4 linked regions of the Homo sapiens genome follow. The protein of the gene in region 1 purifies or fractionates together with the protein of each later gene. This does not show direct contact. Each region holds a gene or a part of one and is shown in the gene's direction. Other genes may lie near its edges. The genes, in order: TTC29, LSG1, FBXW8 and EIF5B.

Evidence for each region.
Region 2: the proteins of TTC29 (region 1) and LSG1 purify together in Homo sapiens (affinity purification with mass spectrometry; 2 studies listed by BioGRID and IntAct, with this or other methods). This does not show direct contact.
Region 3: the proteins of TTC29 (region 1) and FBXW8 purify together in Homo sapiens (affinity purification with mass spectrometry; 3 studies listed by BioGRID and IntAct, with this or other methods). This does not show direct contact.
Region 4: the proteins of TTC29 (region 1) and EIF5B purify together in Homo sapiens (affinity purification with mass spectrometry; 2 studies listed by BioGRID and IntAct, with this or other methods). This does not show direct contact.

What each region holds. Positions count from the first base shown.
Region 1 is NC_000004.12:146,935,859-146,942,884, reverse strand, and holds part of TTC29 (tetratricopeptide repeat protein 29), read left to right. Parts: exon of another isoform or gene 1-39; intron 40-200; exon of another isoform or gene 201-229; coding exon of another isoform or gene 230-301; intron 302-2,983; coding exon of another isoform or gene 2,984-2,989; coding exon 2,990-3,081; intron 3,082-5,207; coding exon 5,208-5,291; intron 5,292-7,026. UniProt on the Homo sapiens protein: Axonemal protein which is implicated in axonemal and/or peri-axonemal structure assembly and regulates flagellum assembly and beating and therefore sperm motility.
Region 2 is NC_000003.12:194,641,177-194,648,202, reverse strand, and holds part of LSG1 (large subunit GTPase 1 homolog), read left to right. Parts: intron 1-773; exon of another isoform or gene 774-1,959; coding exon 1,960-2,039; exon of another isoform or gene 2,040-3,456; coding exon 3,457-3,630; intron 3,631-5,955; coding exon 5,956-6,135; 3' UTR 6,136-7,026. UniProt on the Homo sapiens protein: Functions as a GTPase. May act by mediating the release of NMD3 from the 60S ribosomal subunit after export into the cytoplasm during the 60S ribosomal subunit maturation.
Region 3 is NC_000012.12:116,906,495-116,913,973, forward strand, and holds the start of FBXW8 (F-box/WD repeat-containing protein 8), read left to right. Parts: upstream 1-4,455; 5' UTR 4,456-4,543; coding exon 4,544-4,861; intron 4,862-7,479. UniProt on the Homo sapiens protein: Substrate-recognition component of the Cul7-RING(FBXW8) ubiquitin ligase complex, which mediates the ubiquitination and subsequent proteasomal degradation of target proteins.
Region 4 is NC_000002.12:99,340,388-99,347,413, forward strand, and holds part of EIF5B (eukaryotic translation initiation factor 5B), read left to right. Parts: intron 1-7,026. UniProt on the Homo sapiens protein: Plays a role in translation initiation.

The sequences.
Region 1 (7,026 bases):
CCTCATTTTGAAGCTCCTGGGTGAACTCTTCAAAGACCCCTGCAATTATGAAGAGATTACCCTGGCCCCAGTGCCCACTGCATAATGCTTTGGCAAGTAAAGTGGGGCTTTTAGAAAAGAGTCTAAAATTTATAGAGGATGGAATGCCCCAAATGAGGCAAACTTAGTTGTTTTCTTCTCTCCCTTTTTAAATTTACTAGGGCTACACTGGTGTGGGTTAAGAACTTAGATGATTCCGATGTTCACTGTAACATTGGAAGACTCTGGAACTCTGTGGAAAAGTCTTCACAGCTCCTCTGAAGTAAGCTCTTGGGAGGCCCGTTTGGGGAGCTTTGGTGTCCCTTCAAACCTCACATGAGTTATAACTTCTTACCATATGCTCTGTATGATGCTGCCATTTAGTAAGTTCTTGTTATTCCAGTAACTCAACTGTTTAATATAACATCTAATCAGAAAAATAGATTTTTTAAATTAAAAAAATTGTCATTACGTTATGAAGTTATAAAGGGTAATATAGTATGTTTCTAATGTTTAGTCTGTAGGAGAGGACTAACATTTGCTGTTTAGATTGTGCACTTTAAAGCATAGACCCTTTAAAGGGTAGACCCTTTGCTTTCCAATTAATGTTCATTAACTTCCACTCTTAATGCCTTAACTGCATAAAATAAGTGGGCATTTTGTTTCATAGATCATATCATGCCTTGATAAACTGGTAGTACTAGGATTCTGTTATATTTAAAATAAACCACTGATCTCCATTAGAATTCTCTTTAATTATGTAAAAAATTATTTTTAGGCCAGGATAATAATCTTTTTCAGTAACACAAAGCTGTCTATTTCTACACTGAATTTCAGAAGATTTTCTCTCGTCTTAGTGCTTCTGCACCCCTACCTCCACCATGGCTTTGTAGCACTAGAGGAATATTGTGTCTTAGCTATCCACAGGTGGTTCTATTTCAGGTTTGACTACATCTCTCCTTCTCTACTCCTACCTAAGCCACCACTCTCTCTCCCCTGTATTTCACAGGAGGTTTTGGGCTGGCCTCTCTGCTGTCTACCCTTTCCCCCACTACAGTCTAACCTGAAAGAAAAACTCAGAGTGATTTTTTCAGGATGCAAGTCAGATCGTGTCAATTCTATGCTCTGTATCCTCCAATGGATTCTTACCTCAATAAGAATAAAAGCCAGTTTTTAGAGTAACCATCAAGACATTACACTATTGGGACACCGAACAAAATTCTCCATAACGTCTTTGAGCTTGTCTCCTTCTGCTTTTACTCATCCCTTTGCCATTGGTGAGCATCTGGGTAGTTTCTAGTGCTCTGCTTTGTTTTCCAGCAGAGAATCTTATCAACATCTGAGGTTCTATATATTTTGCTTATTTGTTTAGTGTCTTTCTCCCTATTTACCCCCATACTGCAAAGTCTGTGAAATCAGAGAGTTTTGTCTTTTTCTTCACTGCTGTATCTTTGGCACCTAGAACAGTGCCTGGCACCAAATAGGAGCTCATTAAATATCTGCTGAATATATTCAAGGCCCAGATTTTATTGTGATTTTCCCTGGGTCACACAGGTAGTAATGCTGAAGATAAGCCATTTAAAACCTAAAACAAGCCTTTCAGCTTCTTGGTGAAGCTAAGAGTACAGGTCAAACCTGGTGGACATAGACGGGGTGGGATCAGGAGCCCCTGGCCTTTTGGATGCCTCTCTATTTAACAGAAGCATGGGTTCTTTTGTATCTGACAGCCCTTGCACCATGTAACAATTTTTCTATTCTAAGTTCACAGATGTCATGTCCACACTTCTTCCTCTTTGGAATAGGATTTAGATAATTTGATTTTATAGACTTGCCTTCCTAATTGCTCACCACTCTGGCACACTGCATTTTCCAAAAAGGGCTGCAATAATATCTCCCATGCCATATTCTTTTATTATAATGAAACTTTGACACTCTCCTATCAATAGGTGGTTCTGTATTCATTTGCCTTGAATCTGGGTGAACTTGTTATTACAGTAGAAGTGGATGCTATGTGACTTCCAAGGTTAGACCCTAAAAGGGGATAAAGCTTCTGCCTGGCTTTTCTCTAAAATACTTGCCTTTGGAGCCTGGAGCTGCTATATAAGAAGTCTTAGGTTGCCATGATGTGAGGGAGTCCATGCCACATGAGGAGACCACATGTGTGAGTTCTGGCAGATAGCCCCAGTTGAGTCCCAGCTAACAGCATCAACCACTAGAAAAGTGAGTGAAGACACTTCAAGGTGATTCCTGTCCCCTGTCATTGGGTTACTACAGCTTCTGAGTTTTCTCAGCAGAGGCTCCCATCATCATGGAGGAGAAAAAATCCATGCCTATGATACCCTGTCCTTATTCCTGAACCATGTAAAGTGTGAGATAAAGTTGTTTTAAACAACTTTTAAAAAACAGTACATTTTGAAGTGATTCATTATATTGTTATGGCTGTGTGCTTTCTCAGGGTAGCTGTCTCCTTGTTGAGAATTGTTCTTATCATCTATCACATCTAAGGGAAAGCCTTTATTTGTGAGCGATAAGGCTTTTAGAAAACAGCAAGTATAAGCAATTTTCAATTATTGATTGTAACAGGAAAGCAACACATAAACATTGGAAATCCATAGCTATCCTTAAAATCTTTATTCTTTAATTGCAATCATGTCCCTTACAAAACTCTTACCAAAGATGCCAACTGAACCATCAATGCATTTATCAAATTTTCTTCTTATCTACTTTGTGCTGAAGATACAGACAAATAATAAGTTGGCCAAAAAGCAGACAATGGAAGAAAATAATGAGAGAAGCAACCTGCAGAATCCACTCACTGAGCATGATTCCCGAATAACACAGCTGTAGCACTACACATAGGCATTCTCAACTAAGATGACAGACTGTAAATCTCTAATAATGTCTTAAAGGATCCTTTGAAAGATTTATTCCTTAAAATACAATTTCTACTTATTTCTTTTTGTAGTCCGAAATGACCACCCTGCCCCCACTGCCCATGACACGCCCGAAGCTTACAGCCTTAGCCAGACAGAAGCTGCCTTGCTCCTCCAGAAAAATTCCAAGGTACGTGCCCCTGGTTTTTACTTATTTTCCTACAGAAGGAATTTTCTGTAATAAGAAATGTCAATAATGTATCTCAGAAAATAAAATCATTTCAAGAGAAGAGAAAAATGCCTTGTTATATTGAGAATATTGAAATCTGCTGTTTCAAAAGGATTTATGAACCACATTCAAATACTGCAAATATATTTATTTATTTATTAACCTAGTGCTTATTTCATCATTTTATTTCCTGTTGCAATTATATCATGGTTCCCGTAGAGTTTTGGAGATAAGTTTCCTGTTTTAAATGTGTATGGAGAACAGAAAGCAGAAGCTTTGGGAATGAAAGGTGTAAAGCTTTTTTCTTTTTAAGGCAGAGTCTTACTCTGTCACCTAGGCGGGAGTGCAGTGGTGTGATCTCAGCTCACTGCAATCTCTGCCTCCTGAGTTCAAGCAATTATCGTGCCTCAGCCTCCTGAGTAGCTGGGACCACAGGCACGCAGCACTATGCCCAGCTAAGTTTTTGTATTTTTAGTAGAGACAGGATTCACCATGTTGGTCAGGCTGGTCTTGAACTCCTGGCCTCAAGTGATTCACCCGCCTTGGCCTCCCCAAATGCTGGGATTGTAGGGATGAGCCGCCATGCCCAGACTGAAAGGTGTAATGCTTTTAATCTACAAGGTCCCAAGGGCTGACTTCTGTTTTGGAAGAAGGAGGGTAGAGCCTTACTTGTAGGGTAGATTGGCAGGCAAGAATCAGCTCCTGAAATGATGCTGGGGCTTGAAAATGCATCATCAAACTGCTGCTGCCCATGAATGGCTGCTGAGCTACTCAAATTGTCACTGAGGAAATGCAGGACAGAGAAATTGATACATTTTGTCATAATTATCATATTAACTGATTGTGCTATTTTGAAATTGCCATTTGTAATTCTATTGACTTTTAGTAACATACATATTAGTTACCAATATAAATAGTTTGCATACGTAGGTTTATTTTCTTTATATGCCTACTTTTCCATTCCTGCAAGGCATAATGATCAAAGTATTAGGAGGTTTCTTTGTTCTCATGCCTCATTTTTAGTATTTCTAGGAAATACCAAAGCCCCTGGAACAAAATAAATACATTCAGCTAAACTAACATAAAAATTCTTTAAAAATAGTAAATCAAAATTTTCTTTTCCTATAGCGGAGAAATCTTTCAATGAATGCATAATTCATGTGTGTACACTATAATATATATACATACATATTTTTGTTTTACTTTTGAATAATGTAAAATATTTATGAAGTCTGAAAAAGCTTATTCTTTCTGTCTTTTTAAAGGATTTAATTTATATTTTGTTTTCAAGGTGAGCAAAAGCATAGCCAAATCTCATATCCTTAGGTTAGGATGAGTTTTAAAGAAAACGTTTTCTTGTATTCATTTTATTGAAGAAAAATATTTTTATCATACCCACAAAAGGCAAAGTTTGTATCAACATTCTTTAATAGCTTCTGAATAAAACACTGATATTTGTTTAGTTCCATATCAATCATCATAGTTATGAGAGGTTGATAGCATGCTTATTTTTAAAGGTGCAAAAGGGTGTGAAGAATGAACGCACTACAAGTATAATACATTTTCAATAAGGGCTTCTTAAAATCATTTTGCACCTTGAACCTTTAATAATTTGAGTTTTATGTGTGATTAAAAAAACTATTCAAAGAACATTTCAGGACAAAATTGAGTAATGTTTGGAATAAATTCACGTTACACATTTGAATCAAACAGGTGTTCTTGGCTCAGGATTCTGTGCCAAACAATATATAACTTCAGCAGTTGGAAAGTTACACCACGAAAAAATGTGAGCAAAATAGAAGGTCTTGTAAGCTTTGAGAAGACTCTTGAGTAGAAAGTGAATTATTTCAAGGTGTTGGTGTTTTATTTGTTTACACACTGGGTTTAATATTCTTCCTTATCATTTTCCATTCAGGAAAGATAAAATTTTGAAATGATCAACCAACGACCTAACTCTATAGCTATTGCGTTTATTACATATGGTATTATACCCTGAATATTTCTATTCTCCTGGTGGCATTTTATGTGTTTGGTAGCTTTTCAACTTGATAAGGCTGTGCTTTATTATTTCTTTCTATTTCATTTAGGTCTCAATTGATCAAAGAAAAAGATGACATAGATCATTATCTAGAGGTAAATTTCAAAGGATTATCAAAAGAGGAAGTTGCTGCGTAAGTACAACCTTTAAAGGTACTTTAATATAAAGTTTGTTTCTTTTGTCTTGATTCTTTATTGAAATTTCAATTTTCCTGTGTAATATACTTTTTCATTGGAACATGGCATTTAAAAATTAAAGCTCATATTAAATAGTGATAAGTCATGTCTATTGATCTCACACATATCAAAGTCTTTAATTTTATGGCTCTCAAAATTCCCATATTTACCAAGATATTATACTATCACATTTGCAATATTTAGTTAAGTCTGTGCTATTAATTGCTTGTTAACCTTCATTTTAAGGTGTGTTGTCTCCATGGGAAAGAAAAAAGCTTTAAGAAACAGATTTATATATCTTTTCTCCTGGTGATTAAAGAAAAAGAAACACCTTACTAATGTACTAATATGTCTCCTTTTCCACCCAAGCACTCACAAAAGAACCAATGGATCATACTTTATTGGTTAATTTTTAAATAATTCCAAATTGTCTAGATTTATTTTTTAGATGAACGATACAAACTTTGACATTTTATCACCAGTTAGAATCTAATTTATGGGATGAATAAAAGCAGTACAAAAATCAATGTAGGTTAGTGAGAAATGAATAGAAACTTAGAATAATAGCTAAACAAGTTTAATATTTCTTACCTATACTTAGTGGCTCTGTTATCACATCTTTTCATGTAAGTATTGAAAAATGGAAATCTTGTAAATTTACACGTATCTTATGGAATTCATTAATTGTTTCAATTAAAATATTTTATGCAACAAATGTTTGTAAAAGATTCTCTCTATTAATTTGTCTAATGCTGTGGGATTCTACTGAAAGGGTGTTGCTAATGATATTTTGGTGTAGGTTTGATATATTCTAAAGTTCTAAGTCTCTTGGTGTTTTCCATTTTATCAGATATTATCTTTGTCAATTTGCATATAACATGGAAAAACACAGTCATTTATTTTGTCAATAACTACTTTATAGAATGACAAAATTTTACAGTAGCTGTAATCACTCACTTCTGCAGAGCTCTATAGACTACCATGTATATGGTACGTGGGATTTTTGGCTAAATGCTATTCTGATGATTAATTATTTAACTTTCCGTGATAAACTGTTAGATAAAATTTAAGGCCAATATTGTATTATAGTACAACTACTTCTTAAAAGAAAAATATATGTATGCCGTATTTGGATTCTGATTTAAATATTATATCCAAATAGTTTTAATTGGCTTAATAATTGGAATTAAATTAAAAACTAAACATGCTACACATAATTTCAACAAACTAGAAGTCCATATACTAAAAGTCTACTGACATTTAAGTTTTCAGTGCAGGCTGAAGAAAAATTTTATCTAAGACAATGCAAAATAGGCTATAGTGATGAGTATTCTCTTAATATTATTTTTCCACTAAAGATACTGCCAAATTGATTTCAAATTCATCATTACACTATTGACAACAGTAACTCTGGGTAATTCTCAGGCCTTACTACAATATTCTCCTTAAAGTTTCCTGCACTTCAGTGCTTTCTTAGACCAAAGCTCTTTCTGTAAGATAGTGGATGCAAATCATTAGTATGGAGATAGCTTGTACACAGGTCATTATTATGCTTTTGATTGATACACATTCTAGACCTTGCCCTAGACAGACTAATTGAATAGCATAAAAAGGAGAAAATTGATGAATGATTTCAGCATCTCCCAGCAATGCCCAGCAGGTGCCATGAAGAATTATGCATAGTCTGTTAGC
Region 2 (7,026 bases), on another chromosome or scaffold:
AGCTCTCCCACCTCTGTGTTTTATCCCAATTCCACGTGGGAACCTATGATTTCTTGCCTTAAATGTAAACTTTAAAGGTGGCCTGGAGAACCTTGTGTCTACCTAAAAAAAAAAAAAAAAAAAAAAATAGCAGTGTGGGAAACATTTCCGTGCGTGGGTGACTTGCCTTTACAGGGATTGCTGCTGGTTGGGAAGGAGTTCAGCTTATTTGAGTATTTACTGGCAGAGAAAGGTGAAAGGTGATTTGATATGAATCACACTTAAACCTTGAACTTAGAGACTCTAAAGAGGATAAATACTAAACACTTGTGGTAAGACTATTCTAATTACAGATTCATAGAACAAGAAAAGACCTTAAAGATCACCTCACCTCCTAGCCCCTGCTTTTAAGAGTAATCATCCGAACTCAGAGCCTGAGCTGACCCAAGGTGAGGTGGCTGGTCAGTGGAATAGCCTGGGTGAGATCTCCCTGCAGGATGTTAGCCTGCAAAATGCAGAAAGGTGGACTTCCACCAAACTTCCAGTTTGATTGTACTTCCGATACAACTGAAAATAATGTGAGTCTTTTAAGATGTTTCATCTAATGCTGCCTGATAAAATCAGAGTAAGGAAAAAGCCAGTTTGTAAAAGCAAATGACCACACGTACAATTTCTAAGTTCACTATCTGCAAGTCCATATAGAAGAAAATCTCTGACAGTAAATTTTCAAAGATATTGCCAGATTACTCTCATTTTACTTTGTATTTCTTTAAATACTAGTGAAGTTGAGCATCTTTCCAAATGTTTTGTGACCATTTATTTTTCTTCTGGGAATCACATTTTCCTATACATGGTTCTGTCTTAATGATTTGTAAAAGTTCTTTGTTATATGTGCTACACATTTTTTCCAATGTTAATTTATGGTTTCTTTGGCCCCAAAGAAGTTGACAATTTTAATAGACTATATTTTTCCTTTTTGGTTTGACTGGGTTTGGTGTTTTACTTGGGAAGGTCTTCTCCCTCCCAAAAAGATAAAACTATCTTCCTGTAATATTTACTTACTTTTTTAACATTTAGATTTTTAATCTGACGAAATTTATTGTTGTATATTGTGTAAATTAGGATTCTAACTATTTTCTTCGAAACTGGAAAAGCCAGTCGACAGCTAGTATGTGAGGGAACTGAGTTTTGAACGCAGCCTGTCTGCTGAAGCCGTGTTCTTAACCACCATGCTTCGCTGCTTTTCTAATTGAGTTAGTATTAAAGGGATCTTACTGGGGAAAAAAATGTAGGTACATCATTCAGTAAGAAAACTTCTCTGTTGCTTTCTGTTTTGCAAGTAGTATTGATAGCGTAGCATTCTCCTACAGGTAGCCTCCATGAATAAATGTTTAAAATAAGGAGGCTGGGTGTAGTGCCTCACGCTTGTAATCCCAGCACTTTGGGAGGCCGAAGTGGGTGGATCACCTGAGGTCAGGAGTTCAAGACCAGCCTGAACAACGTGGTGAAACCCCATCTCTACTAAAAATACAAAAAGTAGCCAGGCGTGGTGGCATGCGCCTGTAATCCCAGGTACTTGGGAGGCTGAGGCATCAGAATTGCTTGAACCTGGGAGGTGGAGGTTGCAGTGAGCCAAGATTGTGCCTCTGCACTCCAGCCTGGGCAACAGAACGAGACTCCATCTCAACAAAAAATAAAATAAAAATAAAATAAAGAGAAGAAATAACTGGAGTAGAGAGAAATCGAATTTGTCTTTCATAGCGTGGTGCTAGGTGGCATTTTTAGGATATCAGATATAAGTAAATATTCTCCTGGATTATCTAGTGTTTTTAATGCTAAACAATATATATTCTACAATGATACCTAATTTTTTAAAATCCAAGAGTAAGAATGCTTAGTAATAGAAGCTACATCACCTCAGTTGTCTTTGTTGTGATATTCTGTCATCTAAGATTTTGCAAAATTCTTTTCTCTCCACAGACATGCGAGGATTCATGACAGCGCATGGACAGCCAGACCAGCCTCGATCTGCGCGCTACATCCTGAAGGACTATGTCAGTGTAAGTGAACCCTGCCTCTCATGCTCTCCAATACACAAGTCTTTTCCACATTCTGCGTTCTTAGATAATGGTAACCTGTTCGATTATAAAGGAAATATTTTTTCATTGAAACTGGAGTTGTGTTCTTGATGTAGGGTAGTTAACATTATATGGATTATAGACATTACAAAAGATGGAGATCTCTGAACACCTATTATGAGTGAAAATCACCAATATATGCATCTGGCTTTTTTTGTCTCCTACAGCCCTTTGCTTGTTATGATTGCAACTATTGTCACAGTCTTCTTTGTAGTATAGCTGTTTATATGCCTATCTCTATATTTGCCTAGTAACGATAACAGCTAACATTTCTTGAAAGCTAACCCTGCTAGAAATAGTTCTGTTTTACGTGCGTCTTCTCAGTACAAATATGTAACAAGTCTGTGAGATTACTATTTCTCCTTTTCAAATGAGAACATGCTATTTGGGGGTTTCCCCATAGTAAAATGGAGATGAACAGGGCCTATCTCATGAGATTATTATGGGAAATAAATGAAAACTCTGTGTGTGTGTGTGTGTGTGTGTGTGTGTGTGTGTGTGTGTGTGTGTCTGTCTGTGTGTGTGTGTGTGTGTGTGTGTGTGTGTGTGTCTGTCTGTGTGTGTGTGTGTGTGTGTGTGTGTGTGTGTGTAGCACTAAGCTCAATGCCTGGCACATAATGAGCCCCCAGTAATTGTTATCTATTAAGTTTCTTTCCACAAATAAGCATTACAGGGCCCTGTTAATAACCAGTTGTGAGGATTTGGCTTTATTTCCTCCTCTTCTCAAGACCACATCGGTGGAGCTCTTGGAGCTCAGTGGCAACCATATGGGCTTGCCTTCAGTTCAGGAAGAAAGCAGTTCATGCTATTGGTATGGATAAGTCATGTATTCGTTTACCACTTACTGTGGAGGATGTAAAGATGAGGTAAAAATAGTCACAGCCTTCAGATCATTTATGATGGAAAGAGGCAGACTTGCACCCAGTGAGCAACTGCAACCCCACATACAGGAGTCGAGGAACTCTCCTGACTTTAACAGTCTAACCCGGCATTACCGTAACTGTCCAGTTATGTCTTGAGTTTTGTTTTGGAAAATATTCACCATAAGTATGATCATGTCCGTATACTGAAGAATACTTGAGTGGGAATGCAAACGAGAAAAGAAGAAAGAGATTTCATCCTAGTCTGGGGCGCCATGGGAAGAGCTAGGTCTCTAGAACACTTTGACCATTGATGTATTAGAAAAAGGACTCTTCAGCTGCAGTAGACCAAAACTCAACTCAGCTAACTTAACCAGAAGGCAGAAAGCTCCATCAGAGTGTGACTGGGTGGAGCTGTCTCCTCTGAGGCCACAGATGGCACTTAGGCTGCACTGTTGTCATTCATGTTGTCTTTGTAGGGTAAGCTGCTGTACTGCCATCCTCCTCCTGGAAGAGATCCTGTAACTTTTCAGCATCAACACCAGCGACTCCTAGAGAACAAAATGAACAGTGATGAAATAAAAATGCAGCTAGGCAGAAATAAAAAAGCAAAGCAGATTGAAAATATCGTTGACAAAACTTTTTTCCATCAAGTAAGTTTTAAAGCTTTTCTTAAACTTCTGATCCAACACTCTTTTTATAACAGCTTTATTGAGTATCACATGCCATAAACACATTTTATTAACCCCAAAAAGGGTTTAATAATTCCAAAAAGGGTTTAATAATTCCCAAAAGAAACCTTATTTATTTATTTATTTATTTATTTATTTATTTATTTATTTTTATTTTTTTTTTTTGAGACGGAGTCTCGCTCTGTCGCCCAGGCCGGACTGCGGACTGCAGTGGCGCAATCTTGGCTCACTGCAAGCTCCGCTTCCCGGGTTCACGCCATTCTCCTGCCTCAGCCTCCCGAGTAGCTGGGACTACAGGCGCCCGCCACCACGCCCGGCTAATTTTCTGTATTTTTAGTAGAGACGGGGTTTCACCTTGTTAGCCAGGATGGTCTCGATCTCCTGACCTCATGATCCACCCTCCTCGGCCTCCCAAAGTGCTGGGATTACAGGCGTGAGCCACCGCGCCCGGCCGAAACCTTATTTATTAGCAGTTACTGCCTGTCCCCTTTTTTCCCCCAGCCCCTGCCAACCAATAATCAATCTTTATGAACAGATTTGCCTGTTCTGGAGACTTCACGTGACTGGAATCATACTGTGTGCTCTTCGTGACAGGCTTCTTTCATTTAGCGTGGTATCTTAAACATTCATCCATGTTGTAGCCTGTGTCAGTATTTCAGTCCTTTTTATTACCGAATAATGTTTCATTGTATAGATATGCCACATTTTGTTTATCTATTTATCATTTGAGGGACGTTTGGGTTGTTTCCACTTTTTGGCTACTATGAATAATGGTGTAATGAACACTTGTGTACAGGTTTTTGTGGAGACATGGATTTCGTCTCTCTTGAGTATATACCTCGGCGTGGGGTTGCTGGGTTGTATTGCAACTCCATGTTTAACATTTGAGGTATTGCCAAACTTTCCAAACGTGGCTGTGCTGTTTTACATTACTCCCAGTGATGTAGGAGGTTTCTAATTGTCTCCTCATCCTTGTCAATGTTTATTATTTCCCATTTTTTTTTTATTTTAGCCATCCTAATACATGTGACGTATTGCATTATAGTTTTGATGAGTATTTCCCTAATTACTAGTGATGCTGAGCGTCATTTTATGTGCTCGTTGGCACATGTATATTTTCTTTAGAGAAATGTCTATTATTAAGTTGTAAGAGTTCTTTATATATTCTGGATACAAGTCCCATATCAGATTTATGATTTACAAATATTTGCACCCATTTAGTCAGTTGTCTTTTCTCTGAGCCAACACATTTGGTGATAGAAAGTGCTAAAGAAACAGACTTCATAAATGTCTTCTGCACTTTAAAATATTGATAACTTCAGTTGCTTATATCACAGCTACAATTTGTAGGCAGTATTTTAAAGGTCAAATGTACATGCAAAAGAGCTAAATCACATAATTGTACCCAGTGTAGGTTAAAAATGTTTTTAAGTGACTACTATAGCGAAAATAGGACAGGGGTTAGGATGGGGTGATCAGCTATATCCAGAGAATGTTTTTGTATTTATCCCGTGCTTTATCTGCATGCCTTACACAATGAGCCTGTGAAGCAGGCCAAGCAAGTATTATTCCTTGAGGACACTGAGGCTCAAAGAGACTGAGTTACCCAAGGGCATGCTTTAAATTGCAAAGCTGGGATAAAACTTAGATGTTTGTAGCTCCTAGTTTGAATTATTTTCAAGTTGGTACATACCAGTATTTGGAAGAAAATTTACCAACATGCAAAAAGATTGCAAGTTTATTCTTGGGCCTACAGCTGTCATACAGAACATTTCATGTGAAATTTTAAATGTTTACAGGTTTCTAAAAGCTATGTACAAGAAAGCTGAAAACTTGTCATAATTTTAATATAATTCATATGTCTAAACTGTAACCTCTAGAGTAATATTTTACTATTATAAGTAACTTGCAAATCGTAGGGTACTAATTTTTTTTTTTACTAAGTAAACTTAAAATTTGTTTAGAGTCCATTTCTAATGTGGTTGAAACAGGTTAAGTTTTGATATTAAGACAAATTTCCAGAACACAGCTGGTATTAAGTCTAGTTGTAGATGGCATTTGAAAGTATGGGACTAAACAAAGTTGACGAGGGAATGAGGAGGGGGAAGAGATGAACTGAAGACAGAATGCTGGGGGGAGAAAGAGGACCAGTGAAGGGGAGGGGGGCGGAAGTTCACCCAGTGACTGACTCCTTTTTATCTTGAAGTGATCCACTAATAGTACTGTGCATATCCCTTAAAGGATAGCCTGCTGACAGCTCAGATAATGTTTTCTCTTATTTCCTAGGAGAATGTGAGGGCTTTGACCAAAGGAGTCCAGGCTGTGATGGGTTACAAGCCCGGGAGTGGTGTAGTGACTGCATCCACTGCGAGCTCTGAGAACGGGGCGGGGAAGCCCTGGAAAAAACATGGCAACAGAAATAAAAAAGAAAAAAGTCGTAGACTCTACAAGCACCTGGATATGTGAGGTTGGGCTGCAACAGAAATGTCATCTGCATTGTGCAGATGGAAAAGAGCAGAAGCTGCCTGTTGCCTGTGGAACCGTCCCAAGACACTAGCACTGTAGAACGGGCCCTGCTCTTGCAGAGCACGGCTGCACCCAACAGTCTCCATGTCAAGACCAAGGGCCTCCTGGAAACACCAACTCTGACAAAAAGGAGTCATCTGGGAGCCCGAGAATCCTACTCCTGGCCGGGCACAGTGGCTCACGCACCAACATGGAGAAACCCCGTCTCTACTAAAAATACAAAAAAATTAGCCAGGCGTGGTGGCGCGCACCTGTAATCCCAGCTACTCGGGAGGCTGAGGCAGGAGAATCACTTGAACCAGGGAGGCAGAGTTTGCAGTGAATGGAGATTGCGCCGCTGCACTCCAGCCTGGGCGACAGAGTGAGACTGCATCACAAGAAAAAAAATTTGCAAGGGATGGTTCACGAGACACATTTGGGACGAAGGTGAAAGAGAAATTCCCCATTCTGAGTGTCCTAGTTGGGTTCCTCCGACTCTAAACAAGGGACTTGGGTTCAGTTAGTGTACAGCGGGGGCTCACGTCCACTAAGGAACATGTAGAATGTAACCACCGGGTGACAGGGAAGCTGCGGTATTTACTACCTAGCCCCCATCTTCACTGGTTATTCCACTTATTTAAAATGTCCAGAATAAGCAAATCTCCATATAGAGGAAGTAGATTAGTGGTTGCTTCGGGATGGGAGGAATGGGAAGATTGAGGTCTTTCTTTTGCAGTGATAAAAATGTCCTAAAATTGACTGTAGCGATGGTCACACAACTCTGAATATGCTTAAGACCATTGAATTACACACTTTACGTTGGTGAATTGTATGGTATGTAAATTATAGTTC
Region 3 (7,479 bases), on another chromosome or scaffold:
TGAGATAGGGAAGGTTATCCTGGATTGCCAGGTGGGCCCTTAGTAATCACAAGTATCCTTCTAAGAGGGAGGCAGGCTGGGCATGGTGGCTTATGCCTGAAATCCCAGCAGCTCAGCAGGCTGAGGTGAGAAGATTGCTTGAGGCCAGGAGTCCGAGACCAGCCTGGACAACATAGGAAGACCATGTCTCTGCAAAAAAAATTGAAAAATTAGCAAGGCATGGTGGCATGGAAATCCTGGAAATCCAGGACATTGTAAACCGCTCCCTGTTCTCCCAAGAGCTGGAAATATGACTGCCTTAGGCCAATCAGATGGTCCTCCAGGAGAGTGGTTCTCAAACTGGGTTATGCATCAGAATTACAGGGAGGGATTGTTAAAATCAAAATTGCTGGGGTTGGACCCCTAGCGTTTCCAATTTAGTGGTCTGGGCTGAGAATTTGCATTCCAAACAAGCTCCCAGGTATTGCTGGTTCAGGGGCTACATTCTGAGAACCTCTGCTCTCGGAATTTGAATCCTAGGAAATGAAAGACAGGCAGCGATCCCATCCTACAGAGATGGTTCACAGTTCCCATGATGAAATCCCTAAATCTGATCTGGTTCTTGGCATTCCAAGGGTCTGGTTATTCCTCTTTTTGTTTAACTTGGTGAGCCATCCTCTGAGTTTAATTCCCTTTTTCTTAAGGTAGAAAGACTTGGCGTCTGTTGCTTGCAAACAAAGAACTTTAACAGATTGAGCTTGCAAAAGTATACCCTCAATGTGATAAAAGGTGGGGCCCTGTGGAATACAAGACTTACAGAGCACAGGTTAGATGCAATCTCTATCTGCCAAGACTGTATTAATGTGGATCATAGACATCATTTATTAAAAGCCTACATTATGTTTTATGGATGCTAAGAGTTTTATAGGCATTTTATCAGTCTTACAGTTATTCTGAAAGAAAGATATTTCTATCTTTACTTTTCATTTGAGGAAATGGAGGTCCAGGAATTTACTACTGGAAAGATATAAAATCAACATAAATATAGTCAGTGAATGGTAGGCAATACTAAAAAAAAAGACAATATTTTCCTTCTTCTTAGCATGCTTCTCTCTCTCTCTCTTTTTCATTTTCTCTGGGTGACTAATGGTCCCATTAGCCTGCCTGCACTGTCCCTGTAAAAGTTCTTTTAAAGGGGCAACAGGAAACATTGATCTTGACCAGCTTGGGTGGTCTTGACCAGCTTGGGTGTTTAAAATTGATCTTGACCAGCTTGGGTGTTTAAAATTTTCCAGTTTGAGCCTGGAAAATTGGGTGTTTAAAATTTTCCAGTTTGAGCCTGGGCTTGGGGCCTAATGCTTGTAATCCCCCGAGGTGGGAGGATCGCTTGAGGCCAGGAGTTCAAGACCAACCATTTGACCAACTTCATCTCTACTAAAAACTTAAACATTAGTCTGAGATAGTGGCATGCTCCTGTAGTTCCAGCTACTTGGGAGGCTGAGGCAGGAGGATCACTTGAGCCCAGGAGTTCGAGGCTGCAGTGAGCTACGATCATGCCACTGCATTCCAGCCTGAGTGACAGAGTGAGACCCCATTTTTTTTAATTCCAGTTTGCTTTCTGTTTTAAGTGTTAGATGGTCCATAAAATCTAGAGATACCAGAAAAGTGATATTTGGCTTTTGACTTGCAAGTAGATAATCAAAGTAAGTATGACCTTTGGATTTCACATGGAAGGCACATGGGATGAATGGGATGCTAGCGGAATGGGGAAAAATTAGCTCGTTTTTATTTTTATTACAATAATATTTATTGGCAGCAGCCACTGATGAGCAGCAGCCATGTTTCTGTGGTCTCCCATGTCTGTGGGTCTCAGTGAGGGCCACAAGGTGAGGACCAAGAATGTGAGCAAGCATGGCCACTGCTGCCACCGCAGGCACCCCACCAAGCACAGAAAGTTCGTGTGGGACATGATGTGAGAGGTGTGTGGCTTTGTTCTATATAAGTGATGCACCTTGGAATTGTTCAAGGTCTCCAAGAAAAAGTGGACCCTCAAGTTCATCAAGAAGAGAGCGGGGACACACATCTGCACCATAAGAAGTGAGAGGAGCTGGGCAATATCTTGACCTCCAGGAAGCGAATGGCTGCCAAGAAGAACTGAGACTTCTTCCCCTTCTGTGTATAATAAAACCTTTACGGAAAAAAAAGAGAATGCTTACTTGTATTGGATGCTTATGTTCCATCTTGCATCACTTCACTCATCTTTTACCTTAGTCACTGCTGTAGCAACTGGCTTTGTGCACGTGTAACCTGACAGTCGTTCCTGTTAGCTGCACAGTGTACCTCCTGCTTTTTGCCCCAGAGCATCTCTGCTGCCTTGGTACGGAACATCCATGATAATCCGTTTACTTATACCCAATCTAGAAGTGGGAGGTTGTTAAAGCTCCTTGGCTTAGCCTTTCTCTAGTAGGGGATGAGAGTCACTGGACAAATGCTTTCCTCTTCTGGCTCTTATCTCTTGGGAGGACAATTCTGAGCTGTGTTCTAAGGCTCCTTAGAAGGTGCTAATGGAATGAGCCTAAATTGCCACAGTAGGACCAACTCAGAGATGCTCTTTCTTTTTTTTGTTTTTTTGAGACAGAGTCTCGCACTGTCGCCCAAGCTGGAGTGTAGTGGTGTGAATATACGCCCAACCATATACTCTAATTTTCTACAGTGAAGGTTGTCCAAGCCTGGTTTCCCACAGTAAGCAAGCCTGAGCCCTGGGTTTGTAGGCAGCTAGTTTATTTACAGAAGTGATTCTAGAGAAGAGGCCTGAGAGACTAAGAAGAGTTAGACAAGGAATAAGGGACAGTTAATTGCAAGAGCATCTTTGAGCCTGGAGTGGTGGCTCACACCTGTAACCCCAGCACTTTGGGAGGCTGAGGTGGGTGGATCACTTGAGGTCAGGAGTTCAAGACTAGTCTGGCCAACATGGTGAAACCCTATCTCTACTAAAAATACAAAAACTTAGCCAGGTGTGGTGGCGGGCACCTGTAGTCCTAGCTACTCAGGAGGCTGAGGCAGGAGAATGGCGTGAACCCGGGAGGCGGAGCTTCCAGCGAGCCGAGATCGCGCCACTGCACTCCAGCCTGGGCAACAGAGCGAGACTCCGTCTCAAAAACAAAACAAACCAAACAAACAAACAAACAAAAAACCATTTATTGAGCATGTATTAATCACCAGTCTCAAAGCTAAGAGTTGCCAATCTAGAAGGGAAGGGATATATATATATACATAAAAATAAAATTACAAATTGTGTTATGTATTATGATGAGAAGTACAGGATGCTGTGAGAATGAGTAACAGGGATACCTGATGTTTCTTGAGTGGAGGTTGGAAGATTAAGTGAAATGTGAGTTGAGATATGAAAGATGTGTAGGAGTTAACCAAGTCAAGGTGGGGGGAAAAGTTCCCTGCTGAGGGAATATCAGGTGCAAAGAAAACATTTTTAAGTGGAACGCCATCGTATGTCATTTTCTTTCCCATCTTAAAGCCCTTGGATTTCCTTCTGGAAATCTCTCTCCTAAGATCTGACCTTCCCTTGGCTGGTTTCTCTTTCAGATTTTTAAAAAAAAATTTTTATTTCCACAGGTTATTGGGAACAGGTGGTATTTGGTTACATGAGTAAGTTCTTTAGTGGTGATTTGTGAGATTTTGGTGCACGCATCACCCGAGCAGTATACACTGAACCCAAGTTATAGTCTTTTATCCCTCCCCACCTTCCCACCCTCCCCTCGTCCCCCTCCCCTGTTCCAAAGTCCCATAAGTCATTCTTATGCTTTTGCATCCTCGTAGCTTAGCTCCCACTTATATGTGAGAACATACGATGTTTGGTTTTCCATTCCTGAGTTACTTCACTTAGAATAATAGTCTCCAATCCCATCCAGGTTGCTACGAATGCCATGAATTCATTCCTTTTTTATGGCTGAGTAGTATTCCACCATATGTATATATCAGTTTCTTTATCCACCTGTTGATTCTCTTTTAGATTTTAATTTAAATAACATCTTAAACAGACTTTCACTATCAATCCTTACTCCCCTTACCTTACCTTATTTTGTTTTCTTCCTAATACCTATCACTGATTTAAATGTTCATATTTCTTTGTTTAAAGTCTCCCTACTTAAACGCATGCTCCAAGACGTCAGAGTTTTTGTTTTGTTTTACAGATTTAAATGCTGAATTCTTGGTGCCTGGCATATAGTAGTTGCTGAATGAATGTTTGTTGAATGAAGGAACAATGCTTGGCGCAAAGTCAGAGCTTAGCAAAAGTGATAGGCAGCAGAGCTGACGGGCTGAGGGGCAGCTGCGTAAACCTCTGCTTTGGGCGCCACAAGCCACAAGCCGGACCACCACGTGCGTACAGGGGCAGCGCCGGGGGCGTGGCGGGGGCGTGGACGCCCACCCGGAACCCTAGAGCGGCGGCGGCAGCGGCTTCCGGCCGCGGCGGACACTTCCCTGGGCGGGACTGTCTCGTGGCACCCGGTGGAACCGAGGAGAACGTGGAGCGCCGGGAGCGGCGAATATGGACGACTACAGCCTGGATGAGTTCCGTCGGCGCTGGCAGGAGGAGCTGGCGCAGGCCCAGGCGCCGAAGAAGCGGCGACGGCCCGAGGCTGCCGAGAGGCGGGCTCGGCGGCCGGAGGTGGGCTCCGGGCGCGGCGAACAGGCCTCGGGGGACCCGGCGCTGGCCCAGCGTCTCCTGGAGGGCGCGGGGAGGCCCCCGGCGGCGCGGGCGACTCGGGCCGAGGGGCAGGACGTAGCGAGCCGCTCACGTTCTCCTCTGGCCCGCGAGGGCGCCGGGGGCGGGGAGCAGCTGGTGGACCAGCTCATCCGCGACCTGGTGAGTGGCCGTCGCCTCCCCCCCGCCCATGCCTGCGCCGGCCCCCGCCCCCAGGACAAACCCCTGCAGTGATTTGGAGAGTAACTGTGTGCCACTAGTTGCCCGAGAAAATGAGTAGACGCACAAACACCAATGTTTGTGCTTGCATAGGGGTCTTTCTGGAAGCAGCACTTCCCAACCAGGGCGATTTTGTTCCCCCAGATGTGGCAGTGTCTGCAGACATTTTTGGGTGCCTCATCGGGGTGTGTATGTGTGCATGTTACTGGGCATCTAGTGGGTAGAGGCCAGAGATGCTCCTGAACATCCTACAGTGTACAGGACACCACGCACAAAAAAATTATCCAGGACAAAATATCAGTAAGTGTGGGGTTGAGAAATCCTGCTCTTGAAGGCTACCTAAACTTTGAACAAAGGTTGCCTTTGAAAAGGAGGACCCAGATGATGGATAGGAAGTAATTTTACCTTTGTATACTGTTTGCACTATTTAATTTTTGTAACCGTGCACGTATTCAAAAAAATTATCTCAGAAAAAAAGGAAGAAGAGGAGGAAGAATCTCCTGGGCACTTTCATTAGGATAGAGTTTCTTATCTTTTTGTGGGGCGTGGATACCTTGGAGAATCTGGAGGAAGCTGGGGACCCTGTGTCCGTTAAAAATAATCCCCTTCAGAAAGTTGGGAAAATCAAGAACACCTGAAATGCATCCGTGGCTCCCAGGTTAAGAGGACAAGGCTCCAGGTTCTAATGGTTTGATTTAAATTAGGCCCAAAGGAAGTCCCTACAGCTTTACAATTGGGAACCCACTTTTTTTTTTCCTGTTTTTTTTTTTTTTTCTTTCTTTCTTTCTTTTCTGAGACAGGGTCTTGCTCTGTTGCCCAGGCTAGAGTGTACTGTTGCTCTCCCGGCCCACTGCAGCCTCAAACTGCCTGGCTCAAGCCATCCTCTTCCCTCAGCATCCCGCGTAGCTGGGACTACACGCATGCGCCACCACACTCAGCTAATTTTTTAAATTTTTTGGTAGAGACAAGGTCTCCCTGTATTGCCCAGTCTGGTCTCAAACTCCTGGGCCCAAGTGATCCTCCCAATTGAGAATCATTCTTTTTTTTTTTTTTTTTTTTTGAGACGGAGTCTCGCTCGCTCTGTCGCCCAGGCTGGAGTTGCAGTGGCGCGATCTCGGCTCACTGCAAGTTCCGCCTCCTAGGTTCACGCCATTCTCCTGCCTCAGCCTCCCCAGTAGCTGGGACTAACAGGCGCCCACCACCACGCCCGGCTAATTTCTTTTTGTATTTTTAGTAGAGATGGGGTTTCACTGTGTTAGCCAGGATGGTCTCGATCTCCTGACCTCGTGATCCGCCCGCCTCGGCCTCCCTAAGTGCTGGGATTACAGGCGTGAGCCACCGCGCCCGGCCGAGAATAATTCTTTTAAGTGGCAAGCTGTTTCAAGAAATAATGGCCTATTATTTTATGTAATATGTAGTTTACTCAAATAGCATTAATAGCTACTATTTGAGTTTTTACCAAGTGTTTAGTCCTGTGCTCTGCCCTAATTCGAATATAACAATCCTGTGAGGTAGATTTTAACTCTCCTTTTACAAATGAAGAAACTCAGAGATTCTCTGTAACTTGCCCAGCATTACCCCACTGATAGATTCTGGGGATTGAATTTGGATCCAGGTCTTTTCAACTCCAAGTTTCACCACGTGAACTTGAGTTGGCATAAGAATCACTTGAGGCTTGGTTATAATATAGGTTCTGGGCCCTCCCCAGACCTGCTAACTCCATCACCAGGGAAGGGGCCCTGAAATCTGATGACTGGTATGATCAGGCAAGTTTAAGACATTATACTCTACTGTATAGCCTCCTTTGGTTTAAGGTCCTGATTCTCAAGGCTTTCCATTTGTAACACCTTAGAGGTATAGGCATTGATGCCAAAAATAGTAAAGAAGCAAATCATGTACAGTTGACCTTTGAACAACCTGGGGGGTTAGGAGAACTGACCTCCTTGCAGTCAAAAATCTGTGTATAACTTTTGACTCTCCCAAAACTTAACTACGAATAGCCTACTGTTGACCAGAAGCCTTATAGATAAGTCAGTTAACACATATTTTGTATCTTCTGTGTGTTATATACTGTAGCATTATAATAAAGTAAGCTAGAGGAGAAAGTGTCATTAAGAAAATTATAAGAGAAAATGTATTTACTATTCATTAAGTGAAAGTGGCTCATCACAAAGGCCATCATTCTCATTGCCTTCATGCTGGGTAGGCTGCTGCTGCTGCTACGAAGGAGGGATTGGTCTTGCTGTCATAGTGGTGGCAGAGGTGCAAGGAGAGGCAGGCACATTCGATGCAACGTTTATGGAAAAAACCTGCATACAAGTGGACCCACGCGGTTCAAACCCATGTTGTTCAAGGGTCTGTAGTATTCTGAAAATAGAAGGGACCTGCATACTGGAGAATCTGGAGGGTACATCTGAATCTATTTCATGTTGTTGGAAAAGGCCTTCCCTGTCTTCCTGGAATTCATTTCCCTGGTCTCCTCTGCCCCCTTCAGAATCACCACATTAGGTACTACTAGGTTCTCTATGAGTAGCATACAACTTTTGGGGCACCTCTAATTT
Region 4 (7,026 bases), on another chromosome or scaffold:
CCTGGGTGAAGGTCCACACTTTAAAGATTTTACTGTCATTCCACCTCCCCTCCTTGGCTATGTCAGGCATGTTTCTGGCAAGGTGTGAACTGTGTGAGAAATGACAACTGCTTATTTAGTTATCAAGAGAAGGCATGGAGCCACTTTTCAGTTCTTGGACAGAACATACAATACTCACTGTCCTTAATTCTTATATTTAATTAATCCTTATTTTAACTTCTTAGCCACTCAGTATTCATTTAAAATTAGATTTTAACTTACCTAATTTTATTTGTACAGCATGTGTCAGTGATCAAGATATTTATTCTTGTCTGTGTATTTTTAGAATTCTAGAATTTTGCTTAAAGACCAAGTTCTAGAATTCTGTTCCAGTTTGTGAAAAATCTTCTTTTTTTTTTTTGAGATGGAGTCTTGCTCTGTCACCCCGGGTGGAGTACAGTGGCGCGATCTCCACTCACTGCAACCTCCGCCTCCTGGGCTCAAGCGATTCTCCTGCCTCAGCCTCTCAAGTAGCTGGGATGACAGGCGCCCAACACCTGGCTAATTTTTGTGTTTTTAGTAGGGACAGGGTTTCACCATGTTGGCTGCCTGGTTTCAAACTCCTGAACTCAAGTGATCCTCCCACCCTGGCCTCCCAAAGGCCTGGAATTACAGGTGTGATTCACCACGCTCAGCCCCAGTTTGTGTAATTCTAAGAATGAGATTTTGATGTGGTGTTTGTTCAGCAAGTTTTCCTGACCTTTTTCAGTTGACTCGGGAAACTTGTTGAGACAAAGGCTAGGATTCAATATCCACATATCAAACAAATATAATACACATAGCCTAGGTTTAATAAAGGAATTCATTTCTTACTTGCATATATTTGAATGAAACTCTTGTCTGCATAAATTACATCAAAAAAAGATGCATAATCAGAATTCTTTTGGTCTAGCCTGTTCCTATCCTGACGCTTTAGGAAGTGGTAGGGGAAGAAGTCCTAGTTTGCTATAAATTAATAAGAAAACAGATTATAGATTTTTGTTGATAGTAACCTCTCTAGCCTTCCATGCTGTCCCTGTGGGGAACTCATTCAGCTACTTTTAATGTTACTTGCTCATTTGTTGTGCTTTATTTATGCTTCTAAGTTTATTCCAGTATTGCAGTTGATCTATAAGGTGGGCAGAGTGTTGTTTTACCAAGGAACTGAGTGTCAGTGGTTAGGTTAGAATAGCAATTCTCAAATTCTGGTCCTAGACTCCTTTACACTCTTAAATTCCTAAGGAACACAAAAGGCTTCTGTGTATGTAGGTTATATCTACCAGTTACAGGTATTACAAACTAAAACTGAAAAGTTCTTCAAATATTTAATTTAAAAATAAAAATAAACTTACACTATGATACATAACATTATTAAATAACCATATTTTCAAAAATAGAAGAGCTAAGCGTTTTTGCAAACATCTTCACTATTATATGACTTAATAGAAGATAGATCCTCACATTTGCTTATGCATTTGATCTGCAGCATCATCACACATCATTTAGCTTCTGAAAAACTCCCCTGTACAGTTGTGAGAAAATGAGAATGAAAAAGGCTAGTATCCTCTTAGTATTATTTTGAAAATAGTTTTGACCCCCTAAAATAGTTTAGATTCCCTAAAGAGACCTTGGGAATGAATTTGAGGACTGCTGGCCTAGGGATTTCTAAACTAGATTTAGGCATTTGTGAGACATTTCTCAAGCTGTTTGACCATCGTTCATGTATGTCTTACAGGTGCTGAGAATGCTTGAGAATCACTTAAAGGCAACTGAAGACATCTGTGGGCATGTTAATGTTCTTGATATTTTAACAATTTGAGATTTTTCCTTTTTTTTTTTAAATGTAATACTTGCCAAGGTAAATATCAGTTGAGATTGATTTCAATTGGGAGTCCATTAAGTTTATAGATTATTTGTGACACTTGACATCTTTATGGTGTTGAATCATTCCATTCAAGAAATATATTGAGATTTAAGCACTTGAGTGCCAGATATTTTTCTGGATGCTAGAAATATATTTGTGAACAAATAAGTAATATGATTTGCCTCTCCATTTAGTTGGTTAATTTAATTCTATAACAGTAAAATATTATTTTCTTCATTTTAATCTTTAGGATTTGGCTTTTTCCCATGTATCACAGAATTTTTGTTGCTGTTAATGTAATCATTCCTCCCCCTCCTTTTTTTTTGGTAAATTGTAAAATTTTGTCTTTTTTGTCTCCTTTTCTCCTTCCTTTCTGTTGAGAGATGGAATCTCACTCTGTCACCCAGGCTAGAGTGCAATGGTGTGATCATCGCTCCCTGTAACCTTGAACTCATGGACTCAAGCAGTCCTCCCTCCTCAGCCTCCCCAGTAGCTAGGACTGCAGGCATACACCACTGTACTCAGCTAATTTTTAAAAATTTTTTGTAGAGATGGGGTCTCGCTTTGTTACCTAGGCTGGTCTTCAGCTCCTGGCCTCAAGTGATCCTCCCATCTCAGCCTCTCAAAGTGTTGGGATTACAGGTGTGAGCCACTGTGCCTGGCCTGGGTTGTCTTTTTCTTTCTTTCTTTCTTTCTTTCTTTTTTTTTTGAGACCGGGTCTTACTCTGTTGGCCAGGCTGGAGTGCAGTGGCGTGATATTGGCTCACTGCAACCTCTGCCTCCTGGATTCAAGCGATTCTCATGCCTCAGCCTCCCAAGTGGCTGGGACTACAGTGCCACCATGCCCAGCTAATTTTTGTATTTTTAGTAGAGATGCGGTTTCACCATGTTGGCCAGGCTGGTCTCGAAATCCTCACCTCAGGTGATCCATCCGTCTTGGCTTCCCAAAGTGCTGGGATCATAGGTGTGAGCCACCGCACCCAGCCTGGGTTGTATTTTTATTGTTGGGTTGTAAGAGGTCTTGATATAGTCTGGATACTAGATCCTTATCAGATATATGATTTGCAGATACTTTCTCTGATTTCTGTAGTTTGTTTTTTCCACTGTCTTTTAAAGTTTCTTTTTCACAAAAGTTTTAAATTTTGTTGAAGTCCAGTTTATTTTTGTTGTTGTTGCTTGCATTTTGGTGTTGTATCTGAGATAATCTGTTGCCAAATCCAGGGTCGTGAAGATTTACCTGTATGTTTTCTTAAGAGTTTTATTGCTGGCCGGGCACAGTGGCTCATGCCTGTAATCCCAGCACTTTGGGAGGCCGAGGTGGGTGGATCACCTGAGGTCAGGAGTTCGAGACCAGCCTGGCCAACATGGCAAAACCTACTACTAAAAATACAAAAATTAGTCGGGTGTGGTAGCACGCGCCTGTAGTCCCAGCTACTCGGGAGGCTGAGGCAGGAGAATTGCTTGAACCTGGAAGGCGGAGGTTGCAGTGAGCCAAGATTGCACCACTGCACGTCAGCCTGGGTGACAGAGTGAGACTCCATCTCTAAAAATAAAAAAAAAACAAAACTTTTATTGCCTTATCTCTTGCATTTTGGTCTTTGTTCCAGTTTGAATTAATTGTTGTATGTGGTATGATGTAGGGGTTCATCTGCATTCTTTTTTTTTTTGAGACGGAGTCTCGCTCTGTCGCCTAGGCTGGAGTGCAGTGGCGCAATCTCAGCTCACTGCAAGCTCCGCCTCCCGGGTTCATGCCATTCTCCTGCCTCAGCCTCCCGAGTAGCTGGGACCACAGGCACCTGCTACCACGCCTGGCTAGTTTTTTTGTATTTTTAGTAGAGACGGGGTTTCACCATGTTAGCCAGGATGGGTCTCGATCTCCTGACCTCGTTATCCGCCCGCCTCGGCCTCCTGAAGTGCTGGGATTATAGGCGTGAGCCACCGCACCCGGCCTGCATTCTTTTATATGTGGATATCTAGTTGTCCTAATACCATTTGTTGAAGAGAAGATTTCTTTCCCTATTGAAAGGTTCTGGCACCCTTGTCAGATCATTAGATGCTAGATATATGGATTTATTTCCGGACTTTAAGTTTTATTTCTTTGGTCTGTATGTCTGTGTCAGTGTTGCCACCACAGTTTGTTGTTGTTGTTGTTGTTGTTGTTGTTGTTTCTGGGTTTTTTTTTTTTGAGACGAAGTCTCACTCTGTCACCCAGGCTGGAGTACAGTGGTGTGATCTCTGCTCACTGCAACCTCCGTCTCCTGGGTTCAAGGGATTCTTCTGCCTCAGCCTCCGGAGTAGCTGGGATTTTAGGTGTGCGCCACCAGGCCCGGCTAATATTTGTGTTTCTAGTAGAGACAGGGTCTCACCATGTTGGCCAGGCTGGTCTCAAACTCTTGACTTCAAATGATCCACCTGCTTCAGCTTCCCAAAGTACTGGGATTATAGATGTGAGCCACTGCATCCAGCCGGCACCACAGTTTTGATTACTGTGGTGTGAATTTCCTTAGATGAAAAATTTCAAACACATACAAAAGTAGAATAGTCTAATGAACAAACATGTGTCCATCACCCAGGTTCAAATTCATTCATAAATCTCATTTCATATGTATTCTGCCCCCTCCTTTCTTTTCTCCATTATCTTGATACAACCTCAGACATTTGTAAATATTTCAAGAAATTATATAATGTATTATAAGAAACATTTATATCTTAAATATAAATTTTTAGAAGTGGTACATTTCATTCATTTGGAAAATTCACATACAATGGAATCGTTGTCTGTGTTGTCAGATAAATGAAATGTCATTGTACTTTTTCAGAGGCATTTAAACTAGCGTTTCAATTTATTGCTTCAGAAAATTCCATTTGGAAGTTTTATGATCAAAAGTACAGTAATTATTATAGTGTTAGACGTGTTTTTTATTAAACTGCTGTGTTGAAACTGGTTAGCCTTGCCTGTTGTATGAGAGTCGTGATTGCCACTCCAGAATAGGACTTTTTCCTTATTTATTAGTGCCTATTTGAAATGTCTAACATGCGACCGGGCATGGTGGTGGCTCGTGCCTGTAATTGCAGAACTTTGGGAGGCCATGGCGGGTGGATCAGTTGAGCGTAGGAGTTGGAGACCAGCCTGGCCAACATAGCAAAACCCCGTCTCTACTAAAAATACAAAAAATTAGCCAGGTGTGGTGGTGCATGCCTATAATCCCAGCTACTTGGGAGGCTGAGGCATAAGAATTGCTTGAACCCGGGAGGTGGAGGTTGCAGTGAGCCAGGATTGCACCACTGCGCTCCAGCCTGGGCAATGGAGTGAGACTGTCTCAAAAAAAAAAAAAAAAAAAAGGAATGTCTAACATGCCTTTCTGGTTGCCACTTGTAGAACATAGGTAGGTGGGCGGGGTGCGGTGGCTCATGTCTGTAATCCCAGCACTTTGGGAGGCTGAAGCAGAAGGATTGCTTGAGGCCAGGAGTTTAAGACCAGCCCGTGCAACGTGGGGAGACCCCATCTCTACCCCCTAAAAAAAATAGCTGAGTGTGGTGGTGTGTGCGTGTGGTCTCAGCTACTCAGGAGGCTGAGGTGGGAGGATTGCTGGAGCCTTGGGAGGTCAAGGCTGCAGTGAGCCATGTTTGTGCCACTGCACTTCAGCCTGGGTGACAGAGCTAGACCCTGTCTCAAAAAAAAAAAAAAAATGTGGTGAATTGGGAATACAAAAGGGAGTTTGCTGTTCTCAAAGGGAGTTACGTTTTAACATAGCAAATAGGCATATGCACAGATAATACAGAGTGAAGTGCTGAAGGGAGAAAATGGAGTATGAGAGTACCACCCTCGAGATTTCACATTTGCCTCTTAAAGTTATTGTTTATGCATCTTTAAAATCCTTTTCTAATTAAGTTTGCCATCAAGAGAGCGTGCAGATTGGAAGGAATGGGAGTATGCTGTGTGTTTCTGTGTCTCTAGAGTACCAAGGGTGACCATGAGGAATATTTGAGATCTTCAGTTGCTCCTGTATTGCCAATAATTTTGTACACAGGTGCAGCCAGACCATTCTAATGATGGTGTTCACCAAATTGGTTATTCAGAAATCTGGTCTTGAGAGTGGTTGTCTACATAAAACTTTTTGTTAAAATTTATTAGTAATTATTAGTTTGTTAATATTAATGATTTATTAATATTAGAGTGCCAGGCACTATACAAGTTAGGTGGGGAAAATCCTTTAACAGTGATTAAGGATCAGAGTTAACTTCTATGGAGTACAGAGACTGAGTTTGCTTTGAGCACTTACCATGTGATTAGTTATTTTAGAACATAAGTTGTATCTCTTTTTTTTTTTTTTTTTTTTTTTTTTTGAGAAGGTGTCTCAAGCAATCTCAGCTCACTGCAAGCTCCACCTCCCGGGTTGATGCCATTCTCCTGCCTCAGCCTCTCGAGTAGCTGGCACTACAGGCACCCGCCACCACGCCCAGATAATTTTTTGTATTTTTAGTAGAGACGGGGTTTCATCGCGTTAGCCAGGATGGTCTCAATCTCCTGACCTTGTGATCCACCCGCCTCGGCCTCCCAAAGTGCTGGGATTACAGGTGTGAGCCACTGCGCCTGGCCCATATAAGTTGTATCTTAAGGTGTTTATTGAGAATGTGGATCTGAATTTTTATCAATATTATATATATCTGCAGACATAATCCTAAATATAAACTTGTATCTCTGTAATTATGAAACCCAAAATATTCTTTTTTTATTATTATTTTATTTTATTGAGACAGAATCCCACCCTGTCGCCCAGGCTGGAGTGCAGTGGTCTGATCATAGCTCAGTGCAGCCTTGATCTCCTGGGCTTAAGTGACCCTCCCACCTCAGCCTCCTGAGTATCTGGGACTACAGACGCATGCCACCACACCCAGCTAATTTTTTTGATTTTTAGTAGAGATGAGGTCTTGGTTTATTGCCCAGGCTGGTTTTGAACTCCTGAACTCAAGTGATGTTCCTGCCTTGGCCTCCCAAAGTGTTGGGATTACAGGCATGAGCCACTGTGCCAGGCCCCCAAATAGTCTTATATCAAATAGTAACAAATATAAAATTTTGTAAAGTTCCAATCTGCAGTATTGATTTGAAAGATGATGCCACGTTGTTGAATCTAAATCAGGGC